3 separate regions of the Homo sapiens genome follow, and regions 1 and 3 are each linked to region 2. The links come from fine-mapping of genetic effects on plasma protein levels. A gene starts in region 2. Each other region holds a variant in brackets. All regions are shown on one strand. Distances are from middle to middle.

Region 1 (8,186 bases), 82 kb after region 2:
TATCACACTCTGGGGACTGTGGTGGGGTCGGGGGAGGGGGGAGGGATAGCACTGGGAGATATACCTAATGCTAGATGACACATTAGTGGGTGCAGCGCACCAGCATGGCACATGTATACATATGTAACTAACCTGCACAATGTGCACATGTACCCTAAAACTGAGAGTATAATAAAAAAAAAAAAAAAAAAAAAAAAAAAAAGTCAGGAAGCAACAGGTGCTGGAGAGGATGTGGAGAAATAGGAACACTTTTACACTGTTGGTGGGACTGTAATCTAGTTCAACCACTGTGGAAGTCAGTGTGGCGATTCCTCAGGGATCTGGAACTAGAAATACCATTTGACCCAGCCATCCCATTACTGGGTATATACCCAAAGGATTGTAAATCATGCTGCTATAAAGACACATGCACATATATGTTTATTGTGGCACTATTCACAATAGCAAAGACTTGGAACCAACCCAAATGTCCAACAATGATAGACTGGATTAAGAAAATGTGGCACATATACACCATGGAATACTATGCAGCCATAAAAAATGATGAGTTCATGTCCTTTGTAGGGACATGGATGAAGCTGGAAACCATCATTCTCAGCAAACTATCACAAGGACAAAAAACCAAACACCACATGTTCTCACTCATAGGTGGGAATTGAACAATGAGAACACATGGACACAGGAAGGGGAATATCACACACTGGGGACTCTTGTGGGGTGGGGGGAGGGGGGAGGGATAACACTGGGAGATATACCTAATGCTAAATGACGAGTTGATGGGTGCAGCACACCAACATGGCACATGTATACATACGTAACAAACCTGTACGTTGTGCACATGTACCCTAAAACTTAAAGTATAATAATAATAAAAAATAGTAATAATTTATGGGACCAGGCACCATAAAATGTAAAGATATTTTTTTCTTATAGTTACTATTAACCAGTCTTATTTTTCAATTTGTCTTATACAAACCAACAAAAATCCACATCTTATTTCTTTCTAAAACAAAAATCTTATGTGAGTTAATGTACATAACAGATAAAAGCTGAAGGGTGTGGAACTTGGGCTGCCCCTAAGCACATGCTCAGAACCCTCCAAATGCCACTGAGTACAGCATGGAAACTGCCCAACTGGCCCACGGCTCTGATTTCCAATGATGGGAACTGAGGGTCAGAGGCAGTTCATGGTTCACTGAGAAACCCAGTTCTCTTCTGGAGTGTGTCTCAAGTCAGTGAAATTGGTTTCTGTCTTAGCAGGGTAAAAAACATTGTTACATGATTGTGATTTCTCTGATCTCAAGAAAAATGCTTAGTCTTTTCTTTTTTCTTTTTACTTAGCTTGGCTGTTTCTCTTCTCACCCTGCCCTGCTTCCTTCAGTAATTAGTTTTGGAAAGAAAGAACTCACATAGTAAAAATGACCTGGAAACTCAAATTAAAATTTTTTTCTTGCCCACATGGATTTGTGTGATTCATAGTTGCTTTAAACCCGTAGAAATGTGCTTGCACAAATTAGTAACAACTTTTCATAAACAGACTTCATTGTTCACTGCTAAACATATTCCAGTCAGGCTTTAATTGAAAGGAAAGATATGATAGGAATCTATCTCCATGGCAGAAATGCTTTAAAAGTACTTTATGCTTCTGCAATGATCTGTGACAGCTTTTGAAGATGTTTGGGGGTTTGTGTTTCACAACTACCTAGGGAGATGAGAGAGAAGAAATAGAAAGGACAGAAAGCTAAATATGTGGATTTTGAATGATCAGCTTACATGGCTACAGCTGGGTGAGTCTTCGCTTAATTATATGCAGAGGTGAAACTAATGGTGCTGTGATTATGAAACTGAAACTGGTTAGGAAGGTAAATTACCTCTCTCCGTGTGTAACTTGCCAACCTTGTGGATTAGTCTCTACCTGAATAGAAGACCACATGTAAGGTCTTGATAAGAATAATAAAGACTTATAGTTACGTAGAATTAATCTTGAGTTAAAACAAGGTTCCTCGGGCCATCTCACAAGTCTAAGGGAGACCAAGCATCAATGTTGCTGTAGGCCAGGCATGGTGGCTCATGCCTGTAATTCCAGCATGTTGTGAGGCCGAGGCAGGTGGATCACTTGAGGTTAGGAGTTCGAGACCACCCCAGCCAATATGGTAACAGAGCAAGACTCTGTCTCAAGAAAAAAAAAAAAAAAGTTGTTGCTGTTTAAATGGTATGTTTTGTTAGAAAGTGTTAGAAAGTGTGTCAGCACTGATTTGCTCAGTTATACCATGATAGAGACCTTAATAAGCCATACTCTATGGTGCTCTTTGCTGCTGTAGTGACAGAGTAAAGGGGGGGCAGTCAGTATGTCTAAGGAACCAGGCCGGCAAATCTTAGAACAGGTTTTGGGCTCAGTCAATACAAAGGAGGCTTCTTTGATGGCAAGTAAGCACTGAAGCAAAGTAACTGGGGTCCAAGATTCCATGTTCGAACATAAATAGAAACTAAGTAAATTTAGGGTGTTCCTCTTTATTTCTATTTTTTTCTGATTTGAGAGGGGATTATTGCTTATTGTTAAAAAATTCAAGATACACAGAAAAGTATAAGATGGAAAAAATTGTTCCATGCCACAAGCCAGCTGTAATGTCAAAGAGATTTTGACATTCTGAGATTTTGACATTCTACTTATGAGATTTTGACATTATACCTGTCTACTTGTTGTACTTGGGATTACCTAAATACATTTCATAACTTGGACAGAGTTCTTGTGAAAATACTAATTAATAGTAAAGCTGGGCCAAAAAAAGTTATTCTCATCAAAAGTACATTTATTTTTTCTCTGGCCATGTGCTTAATCTCCCTATTCTGGTATGTGGGAGGGAGGGCAATGCATCTGTGGTTAAACAATGAAATAGCTGTTACTCCCAATTACTTAAGCTGGCAGTTAATTAATCCAACTGGGAGTGTTTCCAAGTAATTAGAGAGCATCTCAGGACCCACAGACTCACGAACATGTTAAGACATTAATATTCCTAGTATCTTTTATTTTTAGAGGCTTTGCTTTTCACCATATCAGATATATTAAAATATAACCACACTTCCCATATTATGTATAATTTTTGGCTGTTTAATTTATGAAAGAATTTTTATAAAGTTGGGAGTTGTTAAGAGTTGATAGTCTTATGGTGTGAAGTTCATTATGTTATTGTTATGATAGCTGAGCTGCAGACAAGTTGGCATCTGTGTTAGTTTTCTATAGCTGCTGTAACAAACTGGGTGGCTTAATACAAGTGAAATTTATTCTCTTGGAATTATGGAGGCCAGAAGTCCAAAATCAATTTTGGCTGGCAAGATGGCCGAATAGGAACAGCTCCAGTCTGCAGCTGCCAGCGAGATTAATGCAGAAGGCAGGAGATTTCTGCATTTCCAACTGAGGTACCCAGCTCATCTCACTGGGACTGGTTAGACAGTGGGTGCAGCCCATGGAGGGTGAGCAGAAGCAGGATGGGCGTCACCTCATGTGGGAAGTGCAAGGGCTTGGGGAACTCCTTCCCCTAGTCAAGGGAAGCCTTGAGGGACTGTGCCATGAGTAACAGTGCATTCCAGCTCAGATATTGTGCTTTTCTCATGGTCTTTGCAACCTGCAGACCAGGAGATGCCCTTGGATGTCTACACCACCAGGGCCCTGGGTTTCAAGTACAAAACTGGGCAGCCATTTGGGCAGACATCAAGCTAGCTTCAGGTTTTTTTCATACCACAGTGGCTACTGGAATGTCAGCGAGACAGAACATTTGACTCCCCTGGAAAGGGGGCCGAAGCCAGGGAGCCAAGTTGTCTGGCTCAGCAGATCCCACCTCCATGGGGCCCAGCAAGCTAAGATCCACTGGCTTGAAATTCTCGCTGCCAGCACAGCAGTCTGAAGTCAAA[T/C]TGGGAAGCTCCAGCTTGGTGGGGGGAGGGGCATCCACCATTACTGAAGCTTGAGTAGGGATTTTTCCCCTCACCATGTAAACAAAGCCACTGAGAAGTTCAAACTGGGCAGAGCCCACCACAGTGCCACAAAGCTGGTGTATCCAGACTGCATCTCTAGACTCCTCCGCTCTGGGTGGGTCATCTCTGAAAGAAAGGCAGCAACCCCAGTCAGGGGCTTATAGATAAAACTCCCACCTCCCTGAGACAGAGCACCTGGGGGAAGGGGCGACTATGGGCGCAGCTTCAGTAGACTTAAACGTTTCTGCCTGCCAGTTCTGAAGACAGCGGTGGATCTCCCAGCACAGCGCTTGAGCTCTGCTAATAGACAGACTGCCTCCTCAAGTGGGTCCCTGATCCCTGTGCCTCCTGACTGGGAGGCAGCTCCCAGCAGGGGTCAACAGACACGTCATACAGGAGAGGTCCAGCTGCCATCTGGTGGGTGCCCCTCTGGGATGAAGCTTCCAGAGGAAAGAACAGGCAGCAATCTTTGCTGTTCTGCAGCCTCCACTGGTGATACCCAGGCAAACAGGGTCTGGAGCAAACTCCAGCAGACTCCAGCAGACCTGCAGCAGAGGGGCCTGACTGTCAAAAGGAAAACTAAGAAACAGAAAGGAATAGCATCAATGTCAACAAAAAAGATGTCCACACAGAAACCCCATCCAAAGGTCACCAACATGAAAGACCAAAGGTAGATAAATCCATGAAGATGAGGAAAAACCAGCACAAAAAGGCTGAAAATTCCAAAAATCAGAATGCCTCTTCTCCTCCAAAGGATCACAACTCCTCACCAGCAAGGGAACAAAACTGGATGGAGAATGAGTTTGACGAATTGACAGAAGTAGACTTCAGAAGGTGGGTAATAACAAACTCCTCCAAGCTAAAGGAGCATGTTCTAACCCAAAGCAAGGAAGCTAAGAACCTTGAAAAAAGGTTAGAGGAGTTGCTAACTAGATTAAACAGTTTAGAGAAGAATATAAATGATCTGATGGAGCTGATAAACACAGCATGAGAACCTCATGAAGCATACATAGGTATCAATAGACAAATCAATCAAGTGGGAAGAAAGGATTTCAAAGATTGAAGATAAACTTAATGAAATAAAGTGTGAAGACAAGATTAGAGAAAAAGGAATGAACAAAGCCTCCAAGAAATATGGGACTATGTGAAAAGACCAAACCCATGTTTTATTGGTGTACCTGAAAATGATGGGGTGAATGGAACCAAGTTGGAAAACACTCTTCAGGATATTATCCAGGAGAAATTCCTCAATGTAGCAAGACAGGCCAGCATTCATATTCAGAAAATGCAGAGAACACCACAAAGATACCTCTTGAGAAGAGCAACCCCAAGACACATAATTGTCAGATTCACCGAGGTAGAAATAAAAGGAAAATGTTAAGGGCAGACAGAGAGAAAGGTTGTGTTAATCACAAAGGGAAGCCCATCAGATTAACAGTGGATCTCTCTACAGAAAGCCTATAAGCCAGAAAACAGTGGGGGCCAATATTCAACATTCTTAAAGAACAGAATTTTCAACCCAGAATTTCATACCCAGCCAAACTAAGCTTCATAAGTGAAGGAGAAATAAAATCCTTCACAGACAAGAAGATGCTGAGAGATTTTGTCACCACCAGGACTGCCTTGCAAGAGCTCCTGAGGAAAGCACTAAATATGGAAAGGAACAACCGGTACCAGCCACTGCAAAAACATACCAAATTATAAAGACCATTGAAACTATGAAGAAACTGCATCAACTAAAAAGCAAAATAACCAGAAAACATCATAATGACAGAATCAAATTCACACATAACAATATTAACCTTAAATGTACATGGGCTAAACACCCCAATTAAAAGACACAGACTGACAAATTGGATAAAGAGTCAAGCCCCATTGGTGTGCTGTATTCAGGAGACCCATCTCATGTGCAAAGACACACATAGGCTCAAAATAAAGGGATGATGGAATATTTACCAAGCAAATGGAAAGCAAAAAAAAAAAAAAAAAAAAAGCAGGGTTGCAAACCTAGTCTCTGATAAAACAGACTTTAAAACAACAAAGATCAAAAAAGACAAAGAAGGGCATTACATAATGGTAAAGGGATCAATGAAACAAGAAGAGCTAACTATTCTCAATATATATGCAACCAATACAGGAGCACCCAGATTCATAAAGCAAATTCTTAGAGACCTACAAAGAGACTTAGACTCCCACACAGTAATAGTGGGAGACTTTAACACCCCACTGTCAATGTTAGACAGATCAATGAGACAGAAAATTAAGAAGGATATTCAGGACTTGAACTCAGCTCTGGACCAAGCAGACCTAATAGACATAAAAGAACTCTTCACTCCAAATCGACAGAATATACATTCTTCTCAGCACCACATCACAGTTATTCTAAAACTGACCACATAGTTGGCAGTAAAATACTCCTTAGCAAATGCAAAAGAATGGAAATCACAACAGTCTCTCAGCCTACAGTGCAATCAAATTAGAAGAAGGATTAAGAAACTCACTCAAAAACATACAACTACATGGAAACTGAAAAACCTGCTCCTGAATGACTACTGGGTAAATAACAAAATTAAGGCAGAAATAAATAAGTTCATTGAAACAAATGAGAACAAAGGCACAATGTACCAGAATCTCTGGGACACAGCTAAACAGTATGTAGAGGGAAATTTACAGCACTAAATGCCCACATGAGAAAGGGGAGAATGATCTAAAATCGACACCCTAACATCACAATTAAAAGAACTAGAGAAGCAAGAGCAAACAAATTCAAAAGCTAGTAGAAGACAAGAAATAACTAAGATCAGAGCAGAACTGAAGGAGATAGAGACATAAAAAATGCTTCAAAAAATCAAGGAATCCAGGAGCTGGTTTTTTGAAAAGTGTACCAAAATAAAAAGACCACTAGCCAGATTAATAAAGAAGAAAAGAAAGAAGAATCAAATTGACAAAAAATGATAAAGGGGATATCACCACTGATCCCACAGAAATACAAACTACCATCAGAAAATACTAAAAAAACCTCTATGCAAATAAACTAGAAAATCTAGAAGAAATGGACAAATTCCTGGACACATACACCCTTCCAAGACTAAACAAGGAAGAAGTCAAATCCCTGAAAAGACCAATAACAAGTTCTGAAATTAAGGCAGTAATTAATAGCTTACCAACCACAAAAAGCCCAGGACCATACAGAGTTACTACCAAATTCTACCAGAGGTACAAAGAGGAGCTGGTACCATTCCTTCTGAAACTATTCCAAACAATAGAAACAGAGTGACTCCTCCCTAACTCATTTTATGAGGCCAGCATCATCCTGATACCAAAACCTGGCAGAGACACAAACAAAAAAGAAAATTTCAGGCCAATATCCCTGATGAATATTGATGCAAAAATCCACAATAAAATAATGGCAAACTGAATCCAGTAGCACATCAAAAAGCTTATCCATCACCATCAAGCCGGATTCATCCCTGGGATGCAAGGCTGGTTCAACATACGCAAATCAGTAAACATAATCCATCACATAAACAGAACCAATGATAACAACCACATGATTATCTCAATAGATGCAGAAAAGGCCTTTGATAAAATTCAGTGCCCCTTCATGTGAAAAACTCTCAATAAACTAGGTACTGATGGAACGTATCTCAAAATAATAAAAGCTATTTATGACAAACCCGCAACTGATATCATACTGAATGGGCAAAAGCCAGAAGCATTCCCTTTGAAAGTCAGCACAAGACAAGGATGCCCTCTCTCACCACTCCTATTCAACATAGTATTGGAAGTTCTGGCCATGGCAATCAGGCAAGAGAAAGAAATGATAGGTATTCAAATACAAAGAGAGGAAGTCAAATTGTCTCTGTTTTCAGATGACATGATTGTATATTTAGAAAACCCCATCGTTTCAACCCCAAATCTCCTTAAGCAGATAAGCAACTTCAGCAACGTCTCAGAATACAAAAATCAATGTGCAAAAACCACAGGCATTCCTACACACCAATAATAGAAAAACAGAGAGCCAAATCATGAGAGAACTCCCATTCACAATTGCTACAAAGAGAATGAAATACCTAGGAATCCAACTTACAAGGGATGTGAAGGACCTCTTCAAGGAGAACTACAAACCACTGCTCAACCAAATAAGAGAGGACACAAATGGAAAAACATTTTATGCCCATGGATAGTAAAAATAAATATTGTGAAAATGGCCATAC
Region 2 (8,184 bases):
AAGGATGAGAAACGAAGATGATACAAGAGGTAGATTTCACCTTTTTTTTAACTCCTTTAACATATCATTCTGCATCTATGAAAGATTTTTTGAAGAATTATTTTAAGCTCATCCTCCCTCTCTTCTCCAGCTTTGCTGCTTCTCATTTCTTACTCTTTCCTGTCACCATTTCTCCTTACCAAGAAGTTGGGGGAAGGAGGGAAAATGACCACGTAAAGCTGTGTTAGTTTGTTGTAAACTCATTAAGCATTCATTATTTGGCTGGGTGCGGTGGCTCACACCTGTAATCTCAGCACTTTGGGAGGCCGAGCTGGGTGGATCACCTGAGGTCGAGAGTTCAAGAACAGCATGGCCAACATGGGGAGACCCCGTATCTACTAAAAATACAAAAATTAGCTTGGCGTGGTGATGCATGTCTGCAATCCCAGTTACTTGGGAGACTGAGGCAGGAGAATCACTTGAACCCGGGAGGCAGAGTTTGCAGTGAGCCAAGATTGCGCCATTGCACTCCAGCCTGAGCAACAGAGTGAGACTCCTCTGTCTCAAAAACAACAACAACAACAACAACAACAACAAACATTCATTTTTTGAGTTAATTTTTGAATTTATTTCTTTGCATTCTGGGAAACTAGGTAGCTCATTTATTTAAATCTTCAAATCACAGTACTTTGTTTATATTCAACACGTTTTTGTATCCTGGGTTACGTGCTATCTTGGTCTCTAAAGAGAGTTGAAGGAGGAAGGAGAAATAAAAAGGATGGAGAAGGTGGTCAGAGAGGTGTAAGGGAGGTGTAAGGGCATATGAAGAGGCAAAATTGTACCCAAATCCATGGAATTTTAGCTCAGTGTTACTTTCCCAGCAGAGCCTTGCTCTGTGCCTTTCTTTCTCTACTTCAACTATTAGTAAGAGAGGGTTAGTAAGGATGCCTTTTCCTACTGGTTCTCTCTATGTACCATGTAAAATTTTATAATGACATAACAACTATCAGTGGAACATGGTGGCTCATGCTTGTAATACTAGCATTTTGGGAGGCTGAGGAGGAAAGATTACTTGAGGCCAGGAGTTCGAGACTAGTCACATAGTGAGACACCCATCTCTACCAATACTACTACTACTAGTACTCCTACTCCTACTACTATCAACTATAATTCACTGAACAGTTTCTAATACACCAGATTTTTTCCTTGAAGATATGTATTATTGGGAATCATAAAAACTGTGCAAGTCATTACCATCACATTTTATCAATGAGGAAACTGAGGTTCAGAGAGGTAAGTAGTTTGTGGTTCAGTCATTGGGTGACACAGATCCAAATTGAACAGACTGAACAGATTCCAAAACCAATTGTACATAATATTCCAGCTCTGTTGTCCCACCTAGAGGAGTGTCTACCTTGCTGGAAGTCTGGGACCAAGTAGGAAGAGATGAAGCCACTGTGGCAAGGACTTTAGGAAGAGATGTCTAGGGCCACATAGGTGCTTTCTCACTTAGCCTACAACTAGGGCCAGCACAAAAGCCCAGATTTTTTAAAATCAGAAGTTACTTTTTGAAGTATGTTTCAATATGGCCAAAGAAAAAGATCATCATGGTGAACTGAAACTAACAGGTATAATGTCACAGAGACAATTATTTTTGAGGTTTAATAACATATGTTAAGCTGCCATTTAAAAGAGATAGCAAGTCAGCCGGGCGTGGTTGCTCACGCCTGTAATCCCAGCACTTTGGGAGGCCGAGGTGGATCTCCTGAGGTCAGGAGTTCGAGACCAGTCTAGCCAACATGGTGAAACCCCATCTCTACTAAAAAAAAACCACAAAAAATTAGCTGGGTGTGGTGGCAGGTGCCAGCAATCCCCAGCTACTTGGGAGGCTGAGACAGGAGAATTGCTTGAACCCGGAGGCAGAGGTTGCAGTGAGCAGAGATCACGCCATTGCACTCCAGCCTGGGGGACAAGAGCAAGATTTTGTCTCAAAAAACAAAATAAATAAAAATAAAAGAGATACAAATCAAACACATTGAGAAATACATATAAAAAGTGGATCCCCTAGACTGAAGAGGAAGATACAAGAAAGTAGGCAGGAAAAAAAATAACTACCTCCCTCAGAACAACTAGATTATAAAATACAATTACCTGAATACAACTTTTGAGCAGTGATTTTTCACTGATACATTCTTAGAAACCAATTCAGTAGTTTTAAATAAAATATTTGAAAGTTCTCTCTATGTAACTGTACCACTAATAATCTACAATGCATGATGCTTATCATTACTATAAAAATTACAATTTTAAAAATGCCTTTCATCATTTTCATTCACCCACTCTTATTAAATAAAGTTAATGGTCATTAGGAAATTTTCCTATACTACTGAATGCCTTAAAGCCTTCATTTGGAGAATACATGTTGGCCTAGAAGGAATGCATTCCAAAATTTTCCTTTCCATCATGGCGTGTGTCTGTTTATGTGTTGTGCCCTATATGTAACTACAAGTTTATTTTGTCCTGTCCAGAAGACGGGGAGGACGGTCCCAGCTGCAGGCTGTTCTGTGTGGGAAGAGAAAAAGGCTGATGCTTAAAGGCCCTCCAAAGGAATCTACTTAAGCCTCATACCAGATTTGGGAGGACTGGTTATACCTGCCTAAACCTGGCACAGGAAGAACAGCACTCAAGCAATTCCTACCTTGGGGTTAACTAGGAATACAAGTTTCACCTTGTGACTCTGGTGTAACTTTGGTTTATTTTTCTCTTAGTAACAGCTCAGCTTGCAAATGAAAGCACTGAGACGCAACTCAGTTACATGTTTGAGGACTCAGGAAAATCAATTCTTACCTTCCACTCTTCCAAATGTAATGGTTGTATTCCAGCTTTACCATGCCCCATAAGCAAATGACTTGAGAGAGAGAGGTGGTTGGGGGCTGGGGGAGAAAAAGAAGAAGGAGAAGGAGAGGGAAGAAGAGGAGGAAGAACAGAGAGAAAGAAAGTGAGGGGAAAAAAAAGAAACAAACAAAAAAAGACAGGAAAAGTCTCTTAACATTGAAGAGATTGGATATCCAGTGTCAGAAAATTTGGATTTTCTTGGGAGTACTTATTTTATTTATGGTGGTAAATAAAGCCCTCAAGGAAGGTTATTAATTTATCTGTCCTATTTAGTATATTAAATTATACTACTTCATATTCTAGTGGCCTGAAAAAGTTAATTTACCACTTGAATGGCATAAATGATGAATACTTACACCAAGTCCTGGAATTTTCCAATGCTCAACAAACATTTAGTACTTTTTGTTTAGGTCTCGCTTTTTTTTTTTTTTATTAGTATCTACGAAAAAGGAAAACAAAATTGTAGCATTCTGTTGGGGCTAACAGGACAGCTGTTGGCTAGGCTAAATGCCATCTTGGAGTAAGAGATACTTTAACTTAGGGCACTGGTGCTGAGAGATGGAGAGAATATCAGAAAAGAAAAATGCAGGGTGGAAGTGTTGAGAGGGAGGGAGATGATGTCAAAATCCATTGGCTTCCAGTGTTTCTGCTCTTTTTAGCTGGGGTGCAGTAACCTTCCATCTTACAACTTTGGGTTTCTTTAAACTTCATGCCTGCCCTCTCTACCAATGTTTTATGAGCTGTCATGTGGGACTAGAATGGGATTCTGAAAATTAAGAGCTGATTTTTATTCCACCGGATATATCAGTTGCCTGGGGCAGTAAAATAATTTAGTTTTGAAATGAAATGTTATTCGTGGGAGACAAGTGCACAACAATTTACTTAACTTAAACAGTAGGATGAGGAGGAAGAGGCAGACACCCAAACTACATTTCATATGTAAAATAAGGCTTACATGACTTTTGGATGCTATAGAAATAAAATTTCTGTACTGAGGGGCATAATTATCCACATAAATCTTATATGAGGAACACAGACCAGTACAAAAGCAGCTGTATCTTTTGGTTATCTTGGAGGCAATATATAACCACATAAGGTAAAATTGGATGCTGCTTGCTTTCTCTAAAAGCTGTGAGGATGTCTTTCTGTTCCAGAAATTGCTTAATGCAAGTAAATGAAAATATACTGAATACATGAGTAAATTCATAAACAGAAATACAAATGAAATTTCTAAAGTAGGTCCTGGTGAGCCCCAATTTTATGAATTATTAGAAGACAATGCACCCAGAAACTAAGACACTAGCTTGAAGACTTTTTTCATTTCTTTTCTTTTTTTTTTTTTTTTTTTTTGTTGCTGATGTTGTTGTTGTTGTTGTCGTTGTTTTGAAACAGTGTCTCACTCTTGCGCCTTGGCTGGAGTGAAGTGGCTCGATCTAGGCTCATTGAAGGCTCCATCTCCCAAGCTTAAGCGATCCTCCCCACCTCAGCCTCAGGGAATGGATGGGACTGCAGGTGCACACCACCATACCCGGCTATTAATTTACTTTTGTATTTTTTGTAGAGACGAGGTTTCGCTATGGCTTCAAGACTTTAAAAGGCAACAATGACTCTTTTGAAATTGCCTGCATTATCAAATGCCTGAAGTCAACCACAATGAATGGTGAGTCTGGTTTCTCCATGACACTAGCAATCCTCTGAAATAAAGGAAGTTAGAATTCCAGAACACGTTTGGGTCTCTGACTCTTCCTCGGTGGCTTCCAGGAGTTTAGGTCAGCCTGCAGGCCCGACCGGAACCCCCGACACCCCTCCACGCGGATTCTTTACATCTCCCTCCCTACCTTGTTTACGCCCTAGGGGGTAGGGAAATGAACAGTCAGTCAGGTGAGACCCAGCAGGGGGAGTGGTGAGCTGGTCCGAGGGCAGCCCGAATATGTCCCTGGGTGTGGGTATGGGTGTGGGGCAATTTGGGTGGGAGCAGCGTGGAGGCTCCCAGGACCAAGTCCTGCGCCTCTTTGGCGGGGTGTGTGCAGGAGGAGGGGGGATAAATAGGAGGCTCCCTCCTCCCGGCGACATTCACGGAGCCGGCCGGCCTCCCGCCCTGGGTGTTTCCCTGCCTTGTAGCCAGGGTGCCAGCCTGGGAAGTAGTTTCGTTTCCTTCTGCCTCCGGGATTAGTTTCCAGGCACCCTCTCAGGCGCCCGAGGCCCGGGAAGGGGGCGAAGAAGGAGGGAGACTTGTCTAGGGGCTGCCCGGCCCGGCAGAGCGGGGTTGATGGACCGGGCCGCCCGGTGCAGCGGCGCCAGCTCCCTGCCACTGCTCCTGGCCCTTGCCCTGGGTAAGTGGCCGTGCTGGGCACTGGAAACCAGGAGGAAAGTCTGGGGCTGGAGTCGCGGGGAGGGCGAACCCTGAACCGAGCTGGCATCTGGACAAGAGGGCGCGCTGGGGCTGGCAGGCGCGGGTTGGAGAACTTTGAAGGCTGGGAGAGCGCGAGGTTAAAGATCTGGCAATTGGGCACCTGGGGCTGCACCTGCTGGAGGCAGTCCCTAGACGCGTGAGAAGGCCCGAGGGCGGAAGCGATTCCGAGGTCCTCGCTGCCAGTGCTGCGAGCAGGCCGCCAGCTGCTGACTTGTGCGCACAGCAGAGGGCCTGGCGGCGCCGGCGGGCTGTCCACCGGGGTGAGGCGCTGTGCTCGCAAGTGAGGGTCGGGGGGTGGGGGCAGGGGCGAGCAGGGAAACCCACTAAAGAAGCTCACGTGGTAGTATAGACCAAGAAGCATATCCTGCAGGAGGCAGAAGAACGGGAACTCTTTGACTGAAGGTGTGATCACCTGGCGTTAGGGAAGAGTGCCAGCGGGAGGAGGAGTAGCAGGATGCCTAGAGCCCTCCAGAGGGTCTCTCCTGCCTCCTTAGGAGTCAGAACTCACAAAGCAGAGCTGGAACTTCAGATGTGGCTGGAAGCAGGCTTCCCCTTCCCCTCCACCGAGGGAAGGTAGTGAGAAGGCTTCTAAGTAGGAAAAAATCCCAACTCTTCAAAGCTTGCTCTCTGCATCATGGTCATTTTGCGGGGCAGAGAAGGGAAGGGAAACCAGTAACATTTTCTAATCTTAGCTGGGCTGTAGACACATCTGGGTTTGGAGCATTTATGTGGTAGGAGGAGAGTCTCCACAGCTGAAGTGTCACCACGATATCACTCCTACCTTCAAGCCTGGGAAGGGGACACCACAAATGAAAAAGAATGGGAATTCCTCTTATTGAGGAAAGAGAGGGGGAGCCTAAATGAAAACTTTCATTTGACTGTGTCCTTGGAGTAAGAGAGGTGGCTAAAAAGGTACAGTGAACTTGCTTGGAGGTGGATCAGACTTAGGACCAAGGTTAGAGAAAATAAACTTATTTAACAAACGCTGAAGAGGAAGGAGTCAGTAACAATTTAGTGGTAGAGTGAATGTGTACATTCATGAAGAAGAGCAATGGGGTTGAGACTTAACCCTAGAAATAGTACTGATGCTTTTGCCAGCATTGCTTGCAAGTAGCTGACATTCTCTTCCTCCACCGTGTCTAAACTATCCAACAGTCAAAGTATTCCCTGAGAATCTGTCGTAGTCAGCAAGGTGCTGAGGTATGTAGCAATGGAGGTGGGGAAAGGGCTCATGAGATTCCTAAAATAAAACATGATTCCTGCCCTAGAACTTGCACTGAATTTGGATATGCAAGCCCAGCAGGGTAACCTGTGGAAAAATTCACGGAATCAGAAAAGGGAGAAAGAGCTCAACAGCGGGGGCTGGAATAGTGGGGAAAGGCTGAATGGAGGACACGAATGCGTGCCTTGAGGCTTGGGTAGAGTTTGCAATAGTAGAGAGGAAAGAGGGAACAGAGACAAGGGAAAAAGCATTTAGTAAAGGGTTGGCGATGCGAATGAGCATGCTTTACTGGAAAGAGTAGAATTTCTGAGAGGCAGACAGATTATGAAGAACTGAAAAAGCCAGATTAGAATATTTGGAACAGAATCAATAAGCTATTAAACACACACCATCACAGGGCTTGACTGGGAGTGATATGATGCAAACAATGGTTTAAAGGTGATAAATCTGTCAGTGAGGTGCAGTATAGGAAGGGGGGGCGCCTGTGGGCCAGAGGACCTGATTGTCTCGTAGGTATAATCTGGGCATGAGCTACTTGGGGCCTAAATTAGGGTGATGTTTTAGCAGAGGTGTCATAGTAGAAATGACTATTGAAAGTCGATGGACATTCTTTCCCCTTTACTATCACAAAACTTGTCAAAAGACAGAAATGAAAATCAAAAAGCAAAACTCGAATCCAGTGCTATTGTACACTCAGGGTAACCTAAATGTACAACCGCCCTGTTAAATGATTGGCTTGGGAAATTGAATTTGGTCTCTAGATCCCCTTAAAGCTCTATTTCTTGCAAAATGCTAAGGAACGTAATTTGTTGGCATCGCTGTTTCCATTAAGTGGCCCTATTTCTGTCATACACACTTTACTTTTAAGTCCCCTTCCTAAATTATGTCACATGTTGTTCTATTTACTTTTTGAAAAGAATGTGAGCAATAAGATGCATGAGACACTAGTGTTTGTGTGTGTGTGTGTGTGTGTGTGTGTGTGTGTGTGTGAGATGGTGGAAATGCGATGAGAGTGGGCATTGAGCAGACATGAGCCCTGGTTCCAGCTCTACCACTTCATGACTCCGAGATGTCTGTAAGTTACAACTTTCTGGGCATTGTTTTTCTAATTTGTAAAATGAAGAGGTTTCATTAGATGGTGATGCCCTTTCCATGTCACATTCTTTTCAAAAAGTAAACAAAATAACATGTGATTTAAATTAGAAATGGCTTATGTCTATTACAAATGTAGATGCTCCTTAAATACATCTGGCATTTAGTAGATGCATCTTTACAGGATAATTTCCATTCTAACATATGCAAATTAGGTACTACTTTCTTTGAGAAATTTTATAAAGACAGAAGTGGGGTTGGAGATATAAAAAGAAGGTATACCATAAGCAGATTATATGGTACAAATACATTTAATATAAATATAAATTACACGTTTATGTGTTATCGATATTCTTTATATGCATTAATTTGGTTTAATTTTCTAAAACTGTTTAAAGGCATTTTCTAAGTCAGTAGAAATCCTGAGCCATTTAATCTTACTTTCTCAAAAAATGAGATTTTCCAAAATGGGCTCGTATTTCTCTACTGTATTTTCTTTTTCTTTTTCTTTTTCTTTTTTCTTTTTTTGAGACAGTCTCACTCTTTCGCTCAGGCTCAGTTACAGTGGCATGATCTCAGCTCA
Region 3 (8,186 bases), 92 kb after region 2:
TGAGTCCTTCAGAAGCTTTTATCCTGGGCACCTTGCTCATAATGATAGAGACTTTCTCCCTACCTAAAGCAAATTTGATTAAAAGAAATCGCATCACCTATAGCTAGAGCAGGTGTTTTCTTTTTTTAAAAAAAAACTTTTATTTTAACTTCAGGGTACAAGTGCAGGTATGTTACATAGGTAAACTGGTGTCACATAGGTAAACTGGTGTCATGGAGGTTTGTTGTACAGATTATTTCATCACTCAAGTATTAAGCCTAGTACTTGGGTGATGAATTACTTAGTTATTTTTCCTGATCCTCTCTTTTCTCTGACCCTCCATCCTCTGAAAGTCCCCAGAGTGTTTTGTTCCCCTCTATGTGTTCATGTATTCTCATCATTTAGCTCCCACTTATAAGTGAGAACATGTAGTACTTGCTTTTCTTTTTCTGTTTTACTTTTCTAAGAATAATGAACTCCAGCTCCATCCATGCCCCTTCAAAGGATATGATCCCATTTTTTTATGGCTGCATAGTGTTCCATGGTGTATATGTACCACATTTTCTTTTTCCAGTCTATCCTTGGTCGGCATTTAGGCTGAGTCCATGTCTTTGGTGTTTTTCTAAGAGGTATTTTGCAGAGGGAATTGCTAGGATGCGTTGGCAAAGGAGGAGACTTCTGTCTACAGAGTTCTTGAATTTCATATTTCTGTGGCAACAAATAAGAGAATTACAGAGAGAGTGAAATAGTTAATGTTAACTACAGCTCAGACAGAGAAGCATTAAACTTTAAACCTCAAACTTTAAGCAGATTGTTCCATTTGCCAGCTCTCAGGGGCTTACTGTGCTGCCAGGCACTATACACAGTCCTTTTTACTTACTAGTTCCACTGCTCAGACAATTTCTTCAAATGACGTATAATCTCTTCTTATAGATGAGGAAGCAAGGTACAGAGAGGCTAAATAATTTGTTCAAAGTCACCCAGCAAGTGGATGGCAGAGGCAGAATTTGAACCCAGGTCTGTTTAGCTATAAAGCCCAACTTATCTTGTATGTACTATGCTGTATCATTTCAAAAAAAATACATAAAGCACATGACAAAGAAATTAAAACTGTAGCCTAAATCACAAAAGATTATAACCAGAATAGAGGCTTAACCTCTGTCACCCCAACTTAGTTTTCATTCATTCTCTGAGATAGGGAAACAATAGTCGATACCATTACTTGAACTACAGATGTGTGTGGTTATTTACTGTTTGATAGGACTATATATAATTGATTTCATTATATAAGTTTTGATCTTTGCAACTAAACTTTTTCTGTAATCTTTAGTCTTTGAGTGTCTTGAATTAGAAAGAACTTGCTCAGATACCATTCATATCCAAACTTAATGTATTCTGTTAATATTAACAGTCATTATCACTGTGCCCATAGTGGATGAGCCAGGAAAACCATTATCTCATACTAAAGAATTTCCCAAATGTTGGAATCTTGTTCAATAATTATACATTTCTCTGTGCTATTTACTATAGTATTATTTACTTGATATTCCTTTATTTCCTGTGTTTTAAATTCATAGTTATTTAAAAGGCAACTATATCACTATCGTAATTAGAATATCAGCATCTCTATAAATAGAAGGCAAACAACAAATATTAATGCAACGAAAAGGAAACAATATTTTAAAATTCTGGATAGATAGTATTAACTGCCCATGGAAAAGGTTTTGGACTTGCTTTGTTATTGTTAGAAAGGGAGATGAGCAAGTCTTTGAGAGCTGGTAAATGCACAATGGCATTGACCCCAAATTTCCTCCTTGATAAAATCTGAGGATTGAATGAAATTCTCATTCAATCCCAGCAAAAGGAGTAATTTTCTCACTAGATAATCAATATACTTATGTATGTGTTGTGAACCACATGAACACATCTTGCTATCACCCGTGACTGTCCTCCGCCTTGTGGTATCAGGCTTGAAATTAAGATTCAGCATTATGTGCTTCTTTGCCATCTGAAACTGGGAGAGTTTTTAATGGCCTAATCACAAGCTCCCCCCTCCTCCACTCTACTCCTGTGGATAAAGTCCTCCAGCCAAACAACACTACTTACCAGAGGAACCAGGCACAGTGTCTGTTTATCCCTCAATAGCAGGCTTTAATTCTGGGCCTGCAACATTATTAAAACAAGCCAAGCACGTGCTTCTGCAGGAATCAAGGGTCACCTCACCCTCTTGGTACTACAAAGCCTGCCTCCCACAACTCTGCTTGTTCACTGTGTTCCCAAATGCAACTCACCCCGCCGTCCTGAGTGGAGTGCAGTGTTCTTCCCCAGTCTGTGCATCTATGTGACTGATAAACTGCTGGGATATAATCTGCCCAGTGCTGGGCGTTGTGTGTTCTGCCATCCCTATAATTCCAGGGTGGGAATGCCTCCCTCACCAATGGAGTGAAGAAGAGACAATCAAAACATACTCCAGTTTGGGAAATAGTGCCATCCTATAGAATGGCACCCAAGCAGATCATCTTCCTATTTATAGGATCCCACTCCTTCCTTAAAGGAGCACCAGATCATCACTGGAACAGAAAGACTACTACAAGTGTCATTTGGGTAGTAAGTTCTTGAGATGAGGGAATCTTTTATCTCCTCAAGAGTCTTCATTTAACCTTATGAAGAGAAACAGTGAACTTGGTTTGGCACGCCATTGGTAGGTTTTTATCTACAAGGTCTGATGTGAGGACTTTTTATGCAAATTATCTTTTCTTATTGTCCTGCCAAAGTAGTTTTAACTCCTGTGAGCCCAACACTTAGCATTAAAACCTCTTATTTTCCAAAGATGACTGACAAAATGCTAAAAGTTGTGCTGTATGCAGTTAAAAGCATAGATTCTGGATGCTCAGGAATCAGACTGCCTGGGTTCAAATACAAACCACTTATTTGCGTGTGTTTGGGCAAATTTCTGAACCTCTCTGAGCCTCAGTTTTCCTACTAACAGTACCTTTGTCATGGGATTTCAGTGAATATTAAACGAGTTACATAGAAAGAGCTTAGAATAATACCTGGTACATAGCAAATGTTCAAGAAATGCTAGCTATTATTACTAGAGAGGCAGCAACACAGTATACCTTTAACACTTGTTAAGTAAGAACCAGAGGCAGTAAGAACCTGAGGAAAAAGGAAACTTGACATGCATATACTGAGGGGAGTATGGGCATAGGGTACCATCCAGAGCTGCTGGGACACTGCAAGGGAGGTTTATAGAAGACAGAAGGCTCTGGGTGCCTGGGAAAGGAGGAAGAAATATGAAACAGGCAAAAAAGATGGGTGCAAATAAGCTTCACCACCCTTATCATTTTCATGCAGGCTGGCTTGTCATTCCACATATTTGGCATTCAAGAAAAGATGTTGGTTACAAGTTTAACAGATTGACAGAATTTTATGCTGTCTTCCTTCTCTGATGCATTCTTGCATCCTCCCTTGCTTTGTAGTTACTTCTGTGCATATAATTTTCTACTAGTTTTTAACCTCTGTAAGGGCAAGAAATATATCTTCTGATTTTTTTTTAATTTCCCACTGAAAGTAGCACAGTACCTAGCACAAAGAAAGGAGATAATCAAATACATGTTGAATTAATTGCTGTGGGTGCTAGTTTGGATACTAATTGAACTTCTGTCATCAACAAACTGAAAGCACCGTTGTTTAAACAAAATAGAAGTTTAGTAATATTTTTCTGTCATGTAACAGCTGAAAAGTAGGTGGCTTTGTTTCATGATGTCATTCAAAGAACCAGGATCCTTTAATCCCATGGCTTTATTACTCCCTAGGGATTTGCCTTCATCTTGGGGTGGTCAATGTTGTTCAGTCCAAGGAGTGAGGAAAAGAGCAGTGTAGGGGTTGCAGTTTCCTTTGGGGAATAGCTTCTGCTCACACACTCTTGGCCAACACTCAACCACACAAACTCACTTAGCTGGGAGAAGTGGACTGTAGAAGAGCAGCCATTCACTCAACTAATACTCAGAGATATAAAGAAAGAAGGAGAGAACGCTGTTGTGAAATGATTAGAAGTCTCAGCACACTTTGCTAATTCTGGAATATTCACCCAACACTTACTTTGTGTGCCTTAAGTGCTTCTTAAGAATAGAGATTAGATGGGAAAGGAGAGGATGAGAATTTTGACTCTAGCACCCTCCTGACATAAGGAGGCTTTGTGTGCCTCAGCCTCTGAACCAGGACCTCTATGACTGACACCCAGCTATTCCAGGAAGTCACAGATCCTCAGGTGATTTTTGGTCTGAGGCCAAATGGCCTGTGCCATCCATACCTTGAAAGCATTTTTTTTCCCCATGAAAGAAAAATGTAAAGGCAAAGGGGAGCTGGAATTACATGTTAAACATGGTATGATCCTTCAAGAAATAAATGTGCATATTTTTGTTTCTGATGCAGTTCTACCAAATATAGAAAGCATTTCAGAATTCTCTAAGAGCAATCCTAGATTGGAATGTAAATGTAGACTGGAGAAATAATTTTTAGCACAAATAGACAGACACATAAATGTGAACAGTCTTTCTAATTCAGGAGTTTTCCATTTTTAAGTCATGAAAACTTTGCAATTAAAAAATTTTGAAGCATGAATCAAATGACTAAACTTTACTGATGTGAATGTACAAAGTAAATGACAATAAAACTAACAGTCCGTGTTTGGGGACAATCCATGACTGTCGGATAGTCGGAGGTTTTAGAGTTGGAATAACTTTTCTCTTCTTTCTTTGCTTTTTACCTGATTCATGCAATTCAATTATAAGGCAGTCTGCCTGTATGTGGTCACAAAG[A/C]CTTTCTGTGCTCATTTTTTAGCTTCTTAATTATACTTGAGGATAATTGCCCTAATATAGTATGTAAATGGGAGTGTAATTGTTGAGTTAGGAGAATAGAAAATAACTGATTTCAGAAATAATATTCGTATGAAATGTAATCATATAAAAATTTGAATAATATTACACACATACACACACACATACACACATTATCTTTAAAAAAAATTCCTTAAAAGTCTAGGGTTATTCTTTAGCTGAATCTCTTTGAGTTTGAGGTTAGAATAATTGGGGTACTCTTATTCACCCTGATATGATTTCTCCATGAATGTACCCAAACAACCAGCAGCTGAAGGGATAATGCTGTGTTCACAGACTCTGCAGCCTGGGATCACAGGACACTGACAGAAAGCTGCATTTCCACAAAGCAACCTTTCCCTCTGAAGGCATCTTTCCCCTCTGATGGGTCACTCTGGGGGAGCTGCTCGTGCAGGTCTTAGCACGGCTGCCTCCTGTTACTGAAGTGTCAGCTCTTCTTAAAGAAGCTCACTGTGACTATCTTTCTTAAAGTCACTCTTTACCTTACCCCAGTCACTTGGTGATATCATCATTTGATTGTCCTGTCTGTCTCTGCTTCCATTAGACTGTGAACTTGATGGCAGGAACCATATCTGTAGGGCATAGCTATGTCTCCTGTGCCTAGAACAGTGCTTGGCACTGAACAAGTACAGGATAATTGTTGGTTGGATAAACAAGTGATCCTTGATTGTGATTTATACTTCATCCTGGTGACTTTTACTTTACTATATCTTCACAATGAAAAGTGTGATTATTGTAAATGGCACATTTATTACTTAGGAGATGCAGCTATTGAAGGAGAGGCCCAGAGAATTTAGGCAATGTTCCCAAGGCACACAGGATGTGTGCAGCTGGAATCACAGGCCAAGTCCTTCCTAGTCTAGGACTCCTTCTCTTTCAGCTCCCTCAAGTTGCCTCCCAATCTGATGAGAATCCAGTGATGTAAGGTATGTGAAAATACCTTGGAGAGTGTAATGGATTATGGAGGAGATATCTTTATATATTTTTTAGTATACAAAATTCTCACTGTTGAAAATAGTTATTTAATGGCAAAGTGTTTTCAGCCTCTAAGTAGAAATAGAGATGCTGTCAGGGTACTCGTTGGAAAAAAACTATGCTAAGACAATGCCTTTCCACAGCAATGTAGCTTAGCGTGTCCATTAATAAATTGGTTCGCAGTTGTGTGAGCTTGCAGAACTGATATTTCTAGTGATCTGAAACAAGTGTGGAGAAGGTGATGAATAGAATTTAGTGAGGTTTTTTGCTTAATCATTGATTTAAATGCATTTTTATATTGTTGAAATCATCACAAATTTACAGAAAAGTTGCAAGAAAAATACATAGACCTTTTTTCTTGAAGCTTTTGAAAGAAAGTTTCCAAACGGGTGTCCCATCATTTCCAAATACATTAGTGTGTATTTCCCACAAAAATGACGTTTCCAATATAACCACAATACAACTATTAAAATCAGAATATTAATAGTTATACATTATTTCCATTGAGTTCTTAGGCCTTATTTAACTGTCTACCCCATAGCAAAATAATTTTATAAATTGAGTTTGTATTTCATTTTAAATTTTCTTTAAAAACCTCAAAAAGAGCCATTGTCTAAATAAATTACAAATAATTGATATTTTTTGTGGCAAGTTAGTTTTGGCCACATTACAACTATATATGGTCACTTAGATGTAGAAGAAATAAAATTCTGATGGTTTTAATATTCCTTAATTTATTCCTTAATATATCTTAACATTTTGACAGAACTGAAGGCACCTGTACTCACCGTGAGCTTGTCTGACTGCCACTCATGTGAGGACCTTCTTCAGAGTATTCTTTATGCAACAGTTTCTATCTTCTCCTCAAGACAGTTCTGCTGGTGCCACAGACTAGTCTGAGCTGAGGGTTTCTTACTTTCTCAGGAACAAACAGAGAACCCCAACCCCCACCCCCAATCCCTCCCGTGTTCATCTCCACAGCTGGTCATGTGCTCTGTCAGCAGGTTTTTAAGCAAACAGTAGGTTTTGGTTTTTGTTTTTGTTTTGAGACAGAATCTTGCTCTGTCACCAGGCTGGAGTGCAGTGGTGCGATCTTGGCTCACTGAAGCCTCTGACTCCCTGGTTCAAGCGATTCCCCTGCCTCAGCCTCCCGAGTAGCTGGGACTACAGGCCTGCACCACCATACCCAGCTAATTTTTGTATTTTTAGTAGAGATAGGGTTTCACCATATTGGCCAGGATGGTCTCAATCTCTTGACCTCGTGATCCATGAAGCAGCCTTAGAATAGTCATGCTATCTAAGGCAGATACATTACCGGAATGTAGTTCTATTACTTAATACAACATGCAAGAACTTAACACATGTCTCCATTCATTCCCCCCAAGTAAGCAGAATTCTACTGAGAAAACAGTATTGTGTTTTTTTTTTTCTGATTACAAGAATGACATAAGTAGTTATATTTTATTTAGATAGTATGGAAAAACAAGTAAATAGATAAAAATGTTCAGAAGACATAATCTTCGTAAACATAAATACATACTATAACCTGTTTTTTTACTTAGGAAAAAGTTATTAATTATGTCCTATATTATTGATATGTCATACACCAGAATTTCCCAAACTTTGTTCTAGTGAAACCAGGGCATTGAAATTGATAATGAAATAAGTGAGGGAAATGCAGTATCCTGTACTTCCTTAAATAAAGTAAGCTGTTTAATTTGCTTTAACTTGGTGTTTCCCAAACCATTGTTCATAGGACTGACTTTTGATCAAAATCTTTTAACACACTTTGATAAATACTCTTATTTCTAAAACATATACTTTAATGACTGGAGCATGTAGTCCACATTATGTCAGTTAAGAATTAATTCACATCCAAATGGCAGAAGATTCAATCACAGTAGTTCCACCAGATAGGAGTTTATTTTTCTCATGTCATAAGAAGCGTGGCTCTGGAGCAGCTTCTCAATGGTGTCATAGGAGCTCTTTCTGTCTCGTTCCACCATTTTAAAATTTCTACTTCACTGTTGTAAAATGCCTGCTACACCTCCAGGTATTAATTACCTAGTCTAGGCAAGAAGAAAAAGGAAGGGGTCAGGAAGACGGAAGGACCAAAGGGAACGACAGCCTTTGGCCAGACTGTCCCTTAAAAACCAATCATATTTCTTGGAAATCTCACCAGTAACTTCTACCCATGCCTCATTGGCCAGTTCTGGGCTACTTGATTACCCTGAGCTACAAGCATGTCTGGGAAGGTGAGTGCTTTAGCTTTCCAGCCCCCGCAATTGAGGAGGTCAGGAGAGGGGCATAGGGAAGAGCCTTTGGATAGAC

Which allele goes with the higher level. Alleles are on the strand shown, and positions count from the first base shown. The strength of an association depends on the size of the effect and on how common the allele is.
With allele T in place of C in region 1, the plasma level of the protein whose gene starts at base 4,946 in region 2 is lower (strong association).
In carriers of allele A in region 3, the plasma level of the protein whose gene starts at base 4,946 in region 2 tends to be lower than with C alone (moderate association).

What was found. PIP is the posterior inclusion probability: the model's chance that the variant is causal. Protein levels are from antibody-based Olink assays in UK Biobank. Linkage for the fine-mapping came from a reference panel and not from the study's own genotypes, which makes the PIPs less certain.
Region 1: its variant is fine-mapped to the plasma level of the BTC protein (UK Biobank, PIP above 0.99).
Region 3: its variant is fine-mapped to the plasma level of the BTC protein (UK Biobank, PIP above 0.99).

The regions. Positions count from the first base shown.
Region 1 is chr4:74,709,556-74,717,741 of GRCh38, reverse strand. No RefSeq gene overlaps it. Among named protein-coding and RNA genes, the nearest start is that of BTC, 81 kb to the left of the region's middle. The variant T/C (reference allele first, on the strand shown) is at 3,910.
Region 2 is chr4:74,791,285-74,799,468 of GRCh38, reverse strand. It overlaps BTC (betacellulin), which reads left to right and starts at 4,946. Exons shown (of 6, transcript NM_001729.4): 1 at 4,946-5,207. The coding sequence starts at 5,144.
Region 3 is chr4:74,699,317-74,707,502 of GRCh38, reverse strand. No RefSeq gene overlaps it. Among named protein-coding and RNA genes, the nearest start is that of BTC, 91 kb to the left of the region's middle. The variant A/C (reference allele first, on the strand shown) is at 4,803.